Linked DNA regions of Homo sapiens: region 1 is linked to region 2. The links come from fine-mapping of genetic effects on gene expression. Tissue or cell type: blood mononuclear cells. Region 2 holds a variant in brackets; the other region holds the start of a gene. All regions are shown on one strand. Distances are from middle to middle.

What was found. PIP is the estimated chance that this variant, and not a neighbour inherited with it, causes the effect.
Region 1: it holds the start of AP4E1, and the variant in region 2 is fine-mapped to the expression of AP4E1 in blood mononuclear cells (TOPMed, PIP above 0.99).

Annotation. Positions count from the first base shown.
Region 1 is chr15:50,904,984-50,913,080 of GRCh38, reverse strand. It overlaps AP4E1 (adaptor related protein complex 4 subunit epsilon 1), which reads right to left and starts at 4,398. Exons shown (of 21, transcript NM_007347.5): 1 at 4,153-4,398; 2 at 932-1,003. The coding sequence starts at 4,302. RefSeq lists enhancers at 3,322-4,063, 4,110-4,279, 4,300-4,589, 4,064-4,805.
Region 2 is chr15:51,095,212-51,103,315 of GRCh38, reverse strand. All of the region lies in intron 1 of MIR4713HG (MIR4713 host gene), which reads right to left. LOC124903491 (a long non-coding RNA gene) reads right to left here. Exons shown (of 2, transcript XR_007064631.1): 2 at 6,834-7,527. It also overlaps a transcript of TNFAIP8L3 not described here. Among named protein-coding and RNA genes, the nearest start is that of TNFAIP8L3, 4.4 kb to the right of the region's middle. The variant C/T (reference allele first, on the strand shown) is at 4,605.

The sequences.
Region 1 (8,097 bases), 190 kb after region 2:
TTACTGGCAGGGAGGGAAAACATTCCCACAGTGGCTTATATACTGAAGACACTCACCAAATATTTGCTGAAGATATGTTGCTTGAAACAAAATCTCATTTAAAAAAAAATCAGGCCAGGCACGGTGGCTCACACCTGTAATCCTAGTACTTTGATTTAGGAGGCTGAGGTGGGTGGATCGCTTGAGGTCAGGAGTGCGATACTAGCCTGGTCAACATGATGAAAACCCCAACTCTACTAAAAATACAAAAATTAGCCAGGCATGGTGGCGGGCACCTGTAGTCCCAGTTACTCAGGAGGCTGAGGCAGGAGAATCGGTTGAATCCAGGAGGCAGAGGTTGCAGTGAGCTGAGATCACGCCACGCCACTGCACTCCAGCTTGGGCAACAGAGCGAGACTCCGTCTCAAAAAAAAAAAAAAAAAATCAAACTGAGTTTTAATCTAGCTATGCTGGGACAGCCCCACAGTGGCCTGCATAATAATGAATGACCATTCATTAAATAGTTGCTGAATATTGTTTGAAAAATCAGATTATGTAGAACAAACTTTAAAAACAACTAGGTCTTAAATAATAAAATTAGATATACCTACAATATATTAATTCAGGTCTGAAAATATCATGTTGAAATCCCAACCTTTTCCAAATGCATAACATTAAAAACATCAGATCAGCACTAGGGTCCCAAGAGTATCTCCACATTTATGTAATCATCATCACATTAGCCCTGACTTCACATAGGCAAATCTTGTTCTGGTGCAAACCAGTCAACAATAAAAGGCTAAAGTTAACATCTGAGTTGCTACCAACTATAATTCATTTTGACTATGATAAATCAAATTTTAGCAACCGATCATCAGTTAGATGCCACTATTGAGTCCACAGTGACTAGATTTCAAATTCAAATGTGTTGGCACTGACTATGCAAACCTACCAGTGTTGTAGTAGGAGCAGAAACAGTCGCTTTCAGACTACTCAGTTCCTGCTGGATTAATTTTTCTTCTTCCTGAGAAAGTGAAAATATTTAAATGCTTGATTAACTGTCTTTTAAAACTGTAACAGCATTTATCTAAACGGAAAAATATAATTTACAATACTTTTAATTTAAAAGAAACATTATTTTAAAGGAGAGTTACAAATACTATCTGCTTACGATCTATCTAAAGGCATTTCTCCAAACCTCAGAACCATCCCTGGAGAGAATAAATATTTCCAGGCTAACCCATCCTTCCTCTTTTCTTTACTCAGTTACTTCCCCTTAATGGTAGAATAGCAGAAAATGTTTTTTTTTAAAACTAAAGGTGGAAGCCGGGCACAACAGCTCATGCCTGTAATCCCAGCACTTTGGGAGGCCAAGGCGAGTGAATCACTTGAGGTCAGCAGTTTGAGACCAGCCTGGCCAACATGGCAAAACCCCGTCCCTACTAAAAATACAAACATTAGCTGGGGGTCCTGTAATCCCAGATACTCGAGAGGCTGAGGCAGGGGCAGGAGAATCGCTTGAACCCGGGAAGTGAATGTTGCAGTGAGCCGAGATCGTACCACTGCACTCCAGCCTGGGTAACAGAGCAAGACTCCATCTAAAAAAAAAAAAAAAAAAAAAATTAAAGGTGGAGAGAGAGTAGAAATTCTCCATGTATTGGCCCAAGAAAAGAGTCTCATCTCACATCTTCCCCTTAGAAGTAAAAAGTCTTCATGGAATTAAGAAACAGGGTAAGAAAGCAGAAACAGAAATAGGTCTTTTTCCCTTAAACTACATTCTTCTTCCCTGTCTTTTCCTCATTCCCCAAATCCTTTCCATAACTTCCTATCTCAGACACATACCAATGTGGTCACTCCTACTGTCTGCATTGTATGTTATCTCCCTAAGCACTTAAAAAATTGGCCCCATTTTTTTTTGGCTAATATCATGCTACCTTTAAATTACACACTGAATTACATGTTCATCAGATGGCTATTCAAAAGCCACTAGTGACGTACTGATACACGTGGATGCCTATCTACAGTTTCAAACTGCTATTTAAGACCAAAAATAACTTTTTAAAAAATTTTATTGAGGATCCCTTAAAAATTAGCAAAGGACAAAAACCTTAAGAAAAACAACATTATTAAGGCCACAAATGGCCAGGCGTGGTGGCTCACGCCTGTAATCCCAGCACTTTGGGAGGCCAAGGCCAAGGCAGGTGGATTACCTGAGGTCAGGAGTTCAAGACCAGCCTGGCCAACATGGCGAAACCCTGTCTCTACTAAAAATATAAAAATTAGCCGGGTATGGTGACGTGTGCCTGTAATCCCAGCTACCAGGGAGGCTGAGGCAGAAGAATCACTTGAACCCAGGAAGCAGAAGTTGCAGTGAGCCAAGATTGCACCACTGCATTCCAGCCTGGGCGACAGAGTGAGACTCCATCTCAAAAACAAAACAAAACAAGACAAGCCCACAAGTAATGATTCTGGAATGTGAAGCAGGTTCTCTCCGGATAGCATCAACTTATTAGAGCTGCCAAAAAAATATTTTTTTTAAACCTTCAGAGCACTTTCTTTTCTGTCTTTCCTTCTCTTTTAGCACTTCTATTGCATTGTAGTCATGCTTATACTTGTCTTAAGCCCAAAACGAATGACTAATTCCTTGGGAAAAGGGAATGTGTTTAATTCTATTTTCCTGTGTCTAACACATAACCTTGTTCCATAAACATCTGTTGAACAAATAATGACATTAACACGTGCTCTTTTTAAGATATAAACTCCTTGTAGCTGTGAATCGGTATACTACACAATCCGTGCAACCATCGAGCGCCTGTGGGGGCCCGGCGCGGTGGCTCATGCCTGTAATCCCAGCACTTTGGGAGGCCGAAGTGAGCGAACACTTGAGGTCAGTTCAAGACCAGCCTGCCCAACATGGTGAAATCCTGTCTCTACTAAAAATACAAAAATTAGCCGGGCGTAGTGGCATACGCCTATAATCCCAGCTACTTGGGAGGCTGAGGCAGGAGAATCGCTTGAACCCGGGAGGCAGACGCTCCAGTGAGCCAAGATCGCACCATCGCACTCCAGCCTGGGCGACAGAGCGAGACTCCGTCATTAAAAATTTAAAAATTTTAAGGCCGGGCAGGGTAGCTCACGCACGTAATCCCAACACTTTGGGACGCCAAGGCGGGCGGATCGCGAGGTCAGGAGATCGAGACCATCCTCGCTAACACGGTGAAACCCCGTCTCTACGAAAAGTACAAAAAATTAGCCAGGCAGTGGCGGGCACTTGTAGTCCCAGCTACTCGGGAAGCTGAGGCAGGAGAATGGCGTGAACCCGGAAGGCGGAGCTTGTAGTGAGCCCAGATCGCGCCACTGCACTCCAGCCTGCGCGACAGAGCGAGACTCCGTCTCAAAAAAAAACAAAAATTAAAATTTTTAAAACCTTAAGGCTCCAGCGAGCCGAGATCGAGATCGCACCATTGCACTCCAGCCTGGGCGACAGAGAGAGACTCCGTCAATAAAAATTTAAAAATTTTAAAAGTTTAAGAATTTTTATAACTGCTCATTTTCAAAGCCCACTTGAGGCAGAGACTTAGCAAATTTTACATTTTGAGAGAACTGTGCTTTTTCTTTGCCCAACACGTTGTTGTAACCCAAGAACCTCAAGCTCCCCAAAGATATTCAACAAGAGGCTCACAGGATCTCTTCAGGTATGCGACATCTGAACTGTTGTTCAGTTGAAGGCACCGGGGGAGAGAAGGAAACTGAGTAGGGAAAAAAAACTTTGTGGAAGGTAAATAATGTCTGACACTTCCATCGCACTAGGTATTTTCACACGCTTGACATCTCACCCAATCCTCAAAACAAACAAAAAACCTATGAATTATGTATCAGTACTTTTCCACCACAACGTTGAGAAAACACACGGAGGCTCAGAGGTTACAGAGATGTGCCCCCGATCAAAGAGTCAGTGTCAGAACTAACTGTGGAAACTCGGCTTCCCTGCTGTCAGTCCCAGCAGGAAAGTGAAGCTTCCAGGCAGACGAAAGGACGAACCGACACAGCAGCCCCTGAGCCCCGCCGGAGGGCTAACCCCAGAGGCCCTGAAGTCTCGCCGCCCGGCCAGGGCCTCCTGGCGCGGGGGCCTCACTCCGATGTCCCTGAGCTCCCGGGCCGGCGGGCACCTACGTGCTTGGAGGTGAGGGCTGTGATGCCGCGGACAAGGCTGCCCAGCCTCGAGGAGAAGGACGCCTTGGCGGCCGCGGGCCCACCACCGGGCTGGTTCTGCAGAAAGAGTCCCGGCAGCGCCGTCAGCGTCTTCTCCACTATGTCGCTCATCGCCGCCGCCGCCCGCGATGCCGCCGCCGCCCGCGATCCCGTAGCCGCCCGGCTTCATGCCCGGCCGCCGCTGCCGGCCCGGCCTCCGTAGGCACTTCCTGTTTTTTGAATAAGAAATCTTTATTGGCGTCCCACCTGAACAAGTTCAGCGTCGTTCTCGCGAGAGGCCACCAGAGGGCGCAAGAGACCGCGGGGGTGGAAAAGGCCGCTCGCTCGAGATTGCGCGCGTAAGTAGACCTCCTTTCTCGCGACGGGGTAGCGGTTCCGGAATCCCCCAGAACCGTGAGTCCTCCTGAGGAAGCCGTCGGGGGCCTGGCCCTGTTAGGCACTGTCTCCCAGAGTCCCCCTTTCCCACTAGCCGCCTCCGCGTAGCCCGAGACCGCGTCAGGAGTTGCGTCTTCCTGGCTGCGCCTTTTTCGGGACGTCCCCGCGCCGTCCGCCGCCTCTCACTGTCCCCGGAGCGCGCGCCACCCGCCCGCTTCCCACAGGCGGTTTCACGCGGGTCCCCGGCGCCGCGCGCGGCTCCGGCCCTGGCGACTCTTGGGACACCCGAGTAGTTGCGTGATAGCGGGGCTGTCCTGAGGATTCGGCGTGCCAGGTTGAGAGCCCGTCGCGTGCCGGGGACTCGCGGCCACTGTCGCTTCCCGTCCGCCCCTCTTCTCCTGGGATTTGGGGAGGTGGGCGGGAAAGAGAACTGGTCGGCGGCCACCCTTGCCGACTCCTCCTCAGCAGGTCGCAGTTGAAAGGTCATCCTTCTAGAGCCCACTCCCCTGGCCCGGCGGGCAAGGATAGGTCTCCAAGTCCCACCCTCTCACAGCGCTCGGTTCTGTTCCACTTTAGAACAGGTCGCAGTTGCCACTACGTAAACAGCTCCCCATAGAGAGAGTATTTTATTCATTCCGATTGCTCCGTCTTTTATCTAGAACAGAGTCTGGTACAATGGCTCTCGAAATGTGGTCTGGTGACCTCAGGGTCGCTGAGACCCTTCTAGGGAATTCACAAAGTCAAAACAACATTGATAACGTTTCTTACGTGTTATTTGCCGTTTTTACCCTCATTCTGTTGGAAATGTACAGAGTTTTCAAGCGGCTAGATGACGATTGACTAGCTGGTAAAATGTATCCTGGAGTATCCTTGTGTTTTCTAGAATTTTCTAAGGTAGTAGGTTTAGGGCATAAATACGTGCGTTTTCAGAGATTAATGCAATTTGCTCTCAGTACTCCTAGTGTGTTTCTAGGAGGTAGGTTAGGTAGGTGGTGATAGCCTCCCTTCAAGGGGAACAAACTTGCTAAATAAATAGAACAAACCAGCCCATAGTGTACAAACCACATCCGAGGCTCCTGGTTAGAAAATTTTGCAGCAAAGAGGTACGAGAGCAGAAGGGAAAATCCCCAAACTCTCACAAGCGCAGAAACCCATGATCAGTGTCGTTGGGCTGAATTATACTCATTATAATAGTAAAAAAAAAAAAAAAAAAAAAACACCACTCCTGGGTGAAGATTTAAGATACTAATAAGACATGCAGTGTATGTACTAGCATATACAACCACAGCGCACATGGCGACAGAAAACCAGAGAACGTGCTTAATAGCAGCACCCGTTCTCCCCGCTTCATGAATGATCCTGTGAGACTCCTACAAAGGGAGTTTCCCCAGTGTCAGTGCATGCTGTCTCACCTTTGAGCAGCCCGCTCTGATCAGCTGTGAGGGTGTACTTTCGCTTTGCAATAAACTCTTTTGCTTGCTTTTACTTTGGACTTCAAAATTATTTTGCACCGCGAAGTCCAGAACCTCAACCGGCCCACCAGCTACAGCTACACTTACAAGCTATCTTCGGTTATACCTGCTCTAATCTCTGTAACCTCCTTGTCACCTAATAAATGAGTTTTTTTGAAATCCTGAAGTTGTTTTAATACCTATATGGGAACATAAGAAAAAAGTTCAATTTGTTGGCTTGTCTCGCAAGAATATTTTTTAATATATTGAGAACATTTTAAAATATTTAAACTTTATCTAAAAGGGATACTCATTTATTCATTTAATTTTTTTTTTTTCAGAGTCTCGCTCTATCACCCAGACTGGAATGCAGTGGCACAATCTGGGTTCACTGCAGCCTCCTCCCCCTGGGTTCAAGCAATTCTCCTGCCTCAGCCTCCCGAGTAGCTGGGATTACAGGCGCCCGCCACCATGCCCGGCTAATTTTTGTATTTTTAGTAAACACAGAGTTTCACCATTTTGGCCAGGCTGGTCTCGAACTCCTGACCTCAGGTGATCCGCCCACCTCAGCCTCCCAAAGTGCTGGGATTACAAGCGCGAGCCACTGCGCCCAGCCAGAAAGGGATACTCTTTTAGAATTTAATTTTGTTATTTTATTATTATTTTTTGAGATGGTGTCTCGCTCTGTTGCCCAGGATGGAGTGCAGTGGTGTGATCTCGGCCCACTGCAACCTCCGCCTCCCAGGTTCAAGCAGTTCTCCTGCCTCAGCCTCCCGAGTAGCTGGGATTACAGGTGCGTGCCACCACACCCGGCTAATTTTTTGTATTTTTAGTAGAGATGTGGTTTCACCACGTTGGCCAGGATGGCCTCGGTCTCCTGACCTCATGATCTGCCCGCCTCAGCCACTCAAAGTGCTGGGATTACAGGTGTGAGCCACCACGCCCTGCCTAGAATTTAATATTTTGTCGTCCGGGCGCGGTGGTTTATGCCTATATTCTAGCACTTTGGGAGGCCAAGGCGGGCAGATTGTCTGAGCTCAGGAGTTCCAGACCAACCTGGCCAACATGGTGAAACCCCGTCTCTACTAAAAATACAAAATATTCGGACAGGCACGGTGGCTCCCACCTGTAATCACAGCACTTTGGGAGGCCAAGGTGCACAGACCACAAGGTCAGGATATCAAGACCAGCCTGGCCAACCTATGACTCTACTAAAAAAATACAGAAATTAGCCGGGCATGGTGGCGTGCGCCCGTAATCCCAGCTACTCGGGAGGCTGAGGCAGGAGAATTGCTGGGACCCGGGAGGCGGAGGTTGCAGTGAGCCGAGATTTCACCACTGCACTCCAGCGTGGGCGACAGAGCAAGACTCCACCTCAAAAAAAAAAAAATACAAAAAATTTAGCCGGGCATGGTGGCACACCTGTAGTCCCAACTACTTGGGAAGCTGAGGCAGGAGAATTGCTTGAACCTAGGAGGCGAAGGTTGCAGTGAGCCAAGATCGCACCACTGTACTCCAGCCTGGGTGACAGAGCAAGACTCTGTCTCCAAAAAAAAAAGGAATTTAATATTTTATCTTTAAATTAAATTTTGTTTTATGTATAGTTTTTTAATTTTAGGTTCTTCCATTGGCTTAAAAAGGGGATACTAGAAGATTCGCTTTCTAACCTTCCCGTCTGTAAAGATGCCGAAAAAGATGAAGCTGACATCAGTATCAGAATTCACTGACTCAGGGAAAGGGAGAAATCTGGTCGAAACTATAAATAACAAAGGAAAGTATGACAAAAGCTTCTTTCTTTCCCTTGGCATTAGAGATGTTAATCACTTGCCTTATTTTATGTCATTCAACAGAACATTTTCAAATACTATTATGGTGCCAATCAAGTTGAGGCATCATTTTCAGACCAGTCAGAATTTAAAAGAAAGGGAATTTAATACTTTCAACATAGAGATGATATGCTTTATAAAAGCCAAAGCTTTTGTATTACCATTTTCAAAGTAAAAATGAAAAACCTACTGAAGCATCTTACACATGAAATTATTATATTTCATTGATAGGAGAAGGACATGCAATAGCTAAA
Region 2 (8,104 bases):
AGGCCAGAGAAGTAATGGAGAGAGGCCCAGGTGTCTTACTAAGGGATAACATTAACTTATGCCTCCTCAGAGAATGAGCAAAGGCTTATGGCAACCAGGCATGGAAGATTCCTCTTTTAGAAGGGTTGATAGCTTCAACCAGGCAGATTGCTTTGAACACCGAAGGGAGGGATCCGTTTAAGGACAATGCCAAGAGAAGACTTGGCGGGAAAGAAAATGTTGGATAGATAGAAGAGAGGAATGGAAAGTTTGAAGACCCAGAAAAGAAGAAAAGGGAAGGGAAAGGGGAGGAGATGGAGGGAAGCTGAGGGAAGAGAAGGGGAGGAGAGGGGAGAGAGTCTTTGATAAGATAAAGAAATTGAAAAGAGGCATTGGTCAAGTCCTGCTTTTGTTAATTCCACTCCAGATGTATATGGTCTAGTAGAACACTGGTGTACAGGAGGTAAAAGGAGAGGAAAGATCAGTAATGGGGAGAGAGATTTGGGAAGTGAGGGTGGAAACCAAATGAAAACTGGATGTAGTAAAGGAAGTAGCAGGAAGTCACTGCTGTCCTGGGCTGGAGTAGAAGGGCTATAAAGGAGCATGGTAATATGATGGGAAATCCTGAAATAGGGCCAGAGACATGGGTTCTGGTCCCATTTGTTCTTAACTCTGGGCAAACCACTTCACCTTTCTAGATTTATTTCTTCATATCTAAAGTGATGGGGTTAGACCAGGTGACCTTGAACATTTCTTCCCCCTTCTACAGCCCTCGACTGGGTGTAGATGTTATGAAATCAGAGACTTACATAAATGGAACCTTCCAGATTGGAACATGTATTTAGCTTTTCTAAGTAGAAAATGCTTTGAAGGGAGGAACAAAAGGTTCCACTCAACACTTGGCGAGCGATATTTGTTCTGTAAAATAATTAGTGAGTAAGCATTATTGAACTGGGTTGTCACATAAACATGAGAGAATTAAAAGAAAAAAACAAATTTAGGAGACTCAATTTTCCCTTCCATAGATCAGAAGGATGATTAACATAAACCACGAGAGGATACTTTTAAAGACATGCGCAGGAGGAGAGTCAGCATCAGATGAAAGCATGCCTGTCTGGGGAATAGGAGCCTTGAGTTCTAGTCTCAGCTCTGCCACTCCCAGGACTTGGACACATCATTTCCTTTCCATGTCTCAGTTTCCAAAGGAATCCAAAAAGTCGTGGACTCCAGCCTCCCACAATACCCCTACCCATGGTCATCTAGTTGTAATCATTAAAAAACACTTTCTTATTCCTGTACCACTGGTACATGTCTGTATCAATGAGGTCTAACTAGGAAAATATTTTACTTATTTTCTTTTCTTTTTCTTTTCTTTTTTTTTTTTTTTTTTTGAGACAGAGTCTTGCTCTGTCGCCCAGGCTGGAGTGCAGTGGCGCAATCTCAGCTCACTGCAAGCTCCACCTCCCAGGTTCACGCCATTCTCTTGCCTCAGCCTCCCGAGTAGCTGGGACTACAGGCGCCCGCCATCACGCCTCGCTAATTTTTTGTATCTTCAGTAGAGATGGGGTTTCACTGTGTTAGCCAGGATGGTCTCGATCTCCTGACCTCATGATCCGCCCACCTTGGCCTCCCAAAGTGCTGGGATTACAGGCTTCAGCCACGGCGCCCAGCCTACATATTTTCTGTCTTTCTTTCTTTCTTTTTTTTTTTTGTTTGAGACAGAGTTTTGCTCTTGTTGCCCAGGCTGGAGGGCAATGGCGGGATCTCAGCTAACTGCAACCTCAACCTCCCGGGTTCAAATGATTCTCCTGCCTCAGCCTCCCGAGTAGCTGGGATTATAGGCATGCACCACCACGCTGGGCTAATTTTGTATTTTTAGTAGAGACAGGGTTTCTTCATGTTGATCAGGCTGGTCTCGAACTCTTGACCTCAGGTGATCCGCCTGTCTTGGCCTCCGAAACTGCTGGGATTACAGGCGTGAGCCACCACGCCCCGCACTATTTTACATATTTTCAAAGGAGATCATGCAATGCAGGTAACTGGCTACACAGGTCTGAGAAGCCAAACAGAGGATAGTGAGGTAATCTAGGCATTAGCAGCAGCAGGAAGTCACTGCCACCCTGGGCTGAAGGACGAAAGGGAGGAGGTGCTGTTACTGGAGCCAAGGGGTTGGGGTCACCTCATGAAAGCTGGAACCACAGCAGGTCCATTTGGTAGGAGCTGGAGTCACAGAGGAGATATAGCAATTGTCAAAGGTGCCAAGATTAAGGGATAGAGGATAGGGGAGAATATTCCTTCCCTGACCTGCCCATCTTCTGCCAGTGCCTCCCACTGGCTGTATCCAGCTAGAAAACAGCTAGTACAGGGGCCCGGCAAATGCAGCCTGTAGGGGTCAGCCCCTTTTCCATACAGAGGATGGAAAGGGCAAGGACAGGCAGGCCAGGACTGGCACAAGATCCAAATTCTCCCTTCTTATAACTTTTATCCATTAGTCCCACATCAGCCTAGAATCTAAGTCTCTACACATTTAAGGACATCCATCCAGTCATGCCTTGTTTGTTTGTTTTTTTTCCTTCTCCAGCCTGACATTCAAACTTTCTCATACAGAATGGTTTCCAAACCTCTTTCATCATCTTGATTCCCCCACCTTGGGGAGATCCCTGATATGTCTTCTTAAAATGTGGCACCAGATGTTCATAAGACCCCAGGTGTCTGTAAGACTAGCTCCAATACAGAAGAACTATTCCTGCCCTTATTGTAGCAATACAGCTATTATCCCACTGTTGACTCATGTTGCTCTTATGGACAACTAAGACCCACATGTCTTTCCCATATGATTTTGTCTTCTCTTACCTGTGTTAGTATGGTAATCTATACCATTGATAAGCACAAGCATCAAATTCTTTCTCTAAATCACTACTCTTGTTGTTGTCTTTAAAAAAAAAAAATAAGTAGAATAAACTAGAGCCAAGGGCAGAGCTCTGTGTCACTCCACTGGATACCTCCTTCCTAGGTAACTCAAAGCCATGAATCAAAGCTCACTGGGTAGGATTGTTCAACCTACTCCAGATCCACCTAGCAGCAAGGAAACTGTGTAAGACCTCCTCAAAACTTAAATCACAACATATGGTATCTGTGACAGTCACTTCCCTTCATTTTGCACCTGAAACACAGAGGATACTCAACAAATACTTGATACATCCCAAGTCAAATAAAATTATCTTGATTTATATACTTCATGACTCTGTTTAAAGAAAGTTAACATGGTTATTTTAGCAGGACATGGTAAGGAACCCATGTTGGCTGCTGGTGATCACCATTCTCTTCTTTAACCATTTATAAACCTGTTTGTTTCAGATTTTTGCTAGACAGCAACAAAAAACTCATCAATTGGTTATTTCCGGAATCAACTCCTTTCTTCCCTTTGAGAACTGGGGTAACATTGCCCCACCCAGTCTTTGGGTACTTTCCTATCATCCTGAAAACCACAAAGACTCTAGTTGCCGCTGAAACCTCATGGGTCTTGATTCCGTCTTCTCTCCTGTGGGAATAATACTGACCTTTTCTATGCCACAAAGCTGTGTAAGGATCCAGGAATATGGGAAGGCACTGGGCAGAGCTCAACAGTCACTTAGGGTACCCACATACAAGCTGTGTAGATGCTTGTAAGAACAGCTCTCATGCAGCAGTGGAGTCACATCCCATAGCCAAAATGAATGCCACAAGTGAGATCACACACCATGTGTGATCAGGGAGGCTCTCAGTGAACCTAAGATCCTGGTGCTGCTATTTAAAGGGCTTATAAATAACCCCATAGGGTTGGGCTAGGGCACAACAGAGGTTGGGCCCATAGAGTTTTCTTCTCTCTCTCTCTTTCTCTTCTCCCTTTCTCCTTCTCAATTTCCCTCTCCCTTTGTATCAGTGCTTTTGAGTCACTATAATTGCATTAACCACCAAGAAAGCTATCCTGCTGGCAGCTCAGGAAGCAGAAGCTAAGAACCCAGGAGAACAGCTGGATGCCAAAGTTGCCAGCCTCATCCACCCTCTGCCTCCTACAAGGGGTCTGGACTTGGATGGGGCTGTGCAGAGGACACACTGCCCACAAAGAAAGTGTGGAAGGAAACTTTGCATTCTTCTCCTAAACCTCCTCTGGGCTCAACTGATGCTGGACAAATGCAAGAATGAACTCAAATAACCCACCTGCTGCCTAGTGGAGATTATACCCATGAAAATTCTTGATAACCTTAAAGTCTTGGGATATATACAGCAATTATTTTGTTAGTTGCAATTTTCTTTCTTGTTTCTCTCTCCCAAGGAAAACGAAGGAGGCTGAAAGTTCACAGGCATTGATTAATGATGTGTGCAAAGATTTAGACACGAGGATATTGATTGATGCTATTATAGCAGAAAATTGGAAACAACCTAACTGCTCAACAATAGAGGATTGTTTAAATACATATGGTATACTCATCCAGTAGAATATTGTACAGCTATTAAAAATCATGTTATCAAAGAGTAGATGAAATGATGTTCACAACATATTGTTAAAAGGAAAAAGCAATTTACAAAAGCAGAATACTGTACACACACAGAAGGAAACTTCTCAAAAGATATGTTAACCGTGA[C/T]TGCAATTAGTAAAATTACGAATTAATTTATATTCTTTTTTGTTTATATGTATTTTCCAATTTTTCTAGTAATCTGCATTACTTTTTAAATAAGAGGGGAGACAAATAAAAGCTTATTTTTACTGGCAAGAAAGAAATAGGAAAGCTCCCTTTCTCAAGGCTGTCTTCTAGCACCATGTTCTGTTAGATGGATATCAAGCTAGCTTGGACCCTGCTCTCCAGCTTACCTACAGTCCCATGGAGGCCCCCTCAGCTCTGGGTAGAAGCTTCCTTGGGACCAAAGTCTACCTTGAGACAAATGATTAAAAATAGGGCCAACCTTTCACCTCTAAGGACCAAAGGCCACTTCAGCCTACAGAAAACAGCGGTTCTAGAGCTGGTGGGTTTTCAAAGCAGAGCAGCAGTCCTAGCGTGTGAAAAGTATCTCCTTCCCTCCTCCCACTGCTGAAGGTTTGCAGACAGCTCCCTTTCCATCCCACAAGAGGAGACAGGCAGATGAGTCATAGCACTGGCTCAGATTAAAGGAGTATTATTGTGTTAGCAGAAATGGATCTATTTTATTATCTGTTTCTTGACACCTTACAAATAGATACGCTTTACCCACCAGACAGGCAATTTCCTTAAAAAGCCAACAATTTTGTTCACTCTAGTTAAGAAATGACCAATGAGTGGTAGAAACTCGTATATCTGAAGAGCTGCCAGGCTGAAAAGATGTAGTGGAAACACTGAGGAAGGTGGCTTATAACCCTCAGACTCTAGATTCAAGTCTGCAAAGTGATGCCATTTTTCTAAAAATATACAGAGGAACTACAGAAACCCTTTCCCTTTTTCTCTTTCTTAAGAGTTTTTCCCCCCCCACAAGAAATATATCAGAACTGGTTTGTAAAAGGAGATTCACCACCTCAGATTTCACTGTTTTAGTGGGGTTGATGGTCATAGGATACTATTTTAAGGACTTCCTTCTCTTACACAGATTTTTCCATACTGGGAGGAGAGATAAGGTATGTTCCACTAATGTTCCTCATTAAACTCACACGCATGCCAGTAGTCATTTCCCTTTGTCTTGCTGTCCCATGACAACAGATTGTACATCATAGGAAATTGGAATCGAGACCTTGTTTAGTTTGGATCTCTCTTCCCCATTGTCTAATTCCACATTCAATTCAATTTTTCATTCTATGTCTGCCTCGTTTAGCAGAAATATACTATGAATGAATATAGGAGCAGGTAAATGAATAGGCATTATCTAAGAACTTCACTCAAAGACTTTTCAGGATACCTTGACCAGTTCTTTCTCTCCCCCCCATGCCCAAAGCATTTATCTCTGGGTCAAAATGTGCTAGATACTTAATGAAGACCTGACGACTGATGAGCATACATGTGTTGTAAATGTGTGTTCTCAGTACATTGTTTACTGTTGATCAAATTCCAGTAGCTTCTCTGTTTCCTTTTTGCTGTTATTCATACATGTCTCTGTGGTCTGTCTCCCTCACACTGCAACCCAGGCTACCTGTCCATTAAAACAAAAGCAAAACCAAAAAAGCTTCCATGAAGTGCAAGGAAAGGAGGTCTAAGGAAACAGGGAAAGTTTCACATTTCCTGTTATTGAATCTAGGCACAACCTTTAGAGGAAGCTGAATGCCTTTTGAATCCCATATGCTCTGTTCTGTGAAGCTATCATTGTTGTTTTACCTTATAACTGAAAAGCTATTATGGCAAACTTTTTAAATGATCCCAGCTATTTGTTTTTCGAGTATCATCTTGTATCCAAATTTTGCCATTACTTTTTTCTTTCTTTCTTTTTTTTTTTTTTTTTTTTTGAGACAGCGTGTTGCTCTTGTTGCCCAGGCTGGAGTGCAATGGCACGATCTCGGCTCACTGCAACTTCCGCCTCCTGGGTTCAAGCGATTCTCCTGCCTCAGCCTCCCGAGTAGCAGTGATTACAGGCATGCACCACCACACCTGGCTAATTTTGTGTTTTTAGTCGAGACAGAGTTTCTCCATGTTGGTCAGGCTGGTCTCAAACTCCCGACCTCAGGTGATCCACCCGCCTCAGTTTCCCAAAGTGCTGGGATTACAGGCGTGAGCCACCGTGCCCGGCCCCCACTTTTTTCTTTTCATTAAAAAATGCAACTCTAAAATATTTTGTTTTTCTAAATGGGATCCATTCAATCTAAAAATTAGTGTTCTTTCCAGTTATCAAACATTCACTGTGTGCCAGGCATTGGGTAATAGCTTTCATACTCATTATTTCATTTATTTACAAACACCCTATGAAGGAGACACCAACACTTGAGGAAACCGAGAGAGGTTTAGCCATTTGCCCAAGATAACACATCCACTGTGGGGCTCTTTTGACCATTTCATCAATATCCATCCAACTTGTATCACTAGAGTCCATGAGCTTGGCCATCCTTTGTTTTCTGAAAACACAAAGTAGAGTGGTATTTGCACTCTGTTAAGCCCACACTTCACTAAAGACGGCAGCCTTCAGGTAGACCAGAAGCCAAAACTCACTTATGACACTGTACCATAGCAGTCAGGAGCAGATCTGGACATCAGACCTGATTTCAAGTCCCAGTTCACCCACCTACTGGACGACCTGAGACCACAGGGACATCATCTGCTGTCTCTGAGACTTTTCCCATCTGTAAAATGGGAATGAAAATAAGTTGAATTCTATGAACTTGCCAACTTTCAACCATATTCTACTTCCAAAAAGTATTTTCAAATGGTGCAACCTAAATTCTTCACTGGGTCATTGTACAGATTAGATGAGGACACAAAGGGAAATGTTCAGTAAGTGGCGCTTTTTAGCAGACTTTTTCTTCTTGATTTTCTTTTGCTCTGGCCAATAATTTGCATTCTCTGGGCAGACTTTACAAGCAGAGAACCCAGCTTGAGGCTTTGTGAGTGTAGGAGCCTATAATAGGGAGGCAATAAGAGCATATAGATAACCAAGAATTAACAACAACAAAAAAGGCCTCGGTGCTCCGTGCATTTCCCCCCTCGTTTGGGCTCTTAATTAGTAAATAGGTTTACAAATGCTTTTTTTTTTCCTTTCATAAAGGATGGTGTTACGGAAGTTTAGCACTCTGTGTTTAATCCCATCAACAAAGAAAAGCTTTTAAAATTAATTCTGGCCCCTCTAGTCGAGGGCGCGAAATAGCACGGCTGCTTGATTGGCAGGGTGGCTCCAACCTTCCAGGCGAGCCAGTGTTCAGACTCACCGAGCCCCCGGAACCCGCTTCACCACCGCTTGCCCCACCTGCCCTGCCCTCGCTGGCAGAAGACTCAAACAGCCGGAGTTAGCATTACCTGCCTGTGTGTTTACTTCGTCACTAGGTGCCAGGCCCAGCGCTCGGTCCCGCACACGCCTTGTCTTACTACTTTCCACAACAGTCCAACTGTCATCTCCCCCCACCCCGCCCCCTTCCCTTATTCCCCGCTCCCTTCCCTTATTCCCCGCTCCCCTTCCCTTATTCCCCGCCCCCCTTCCC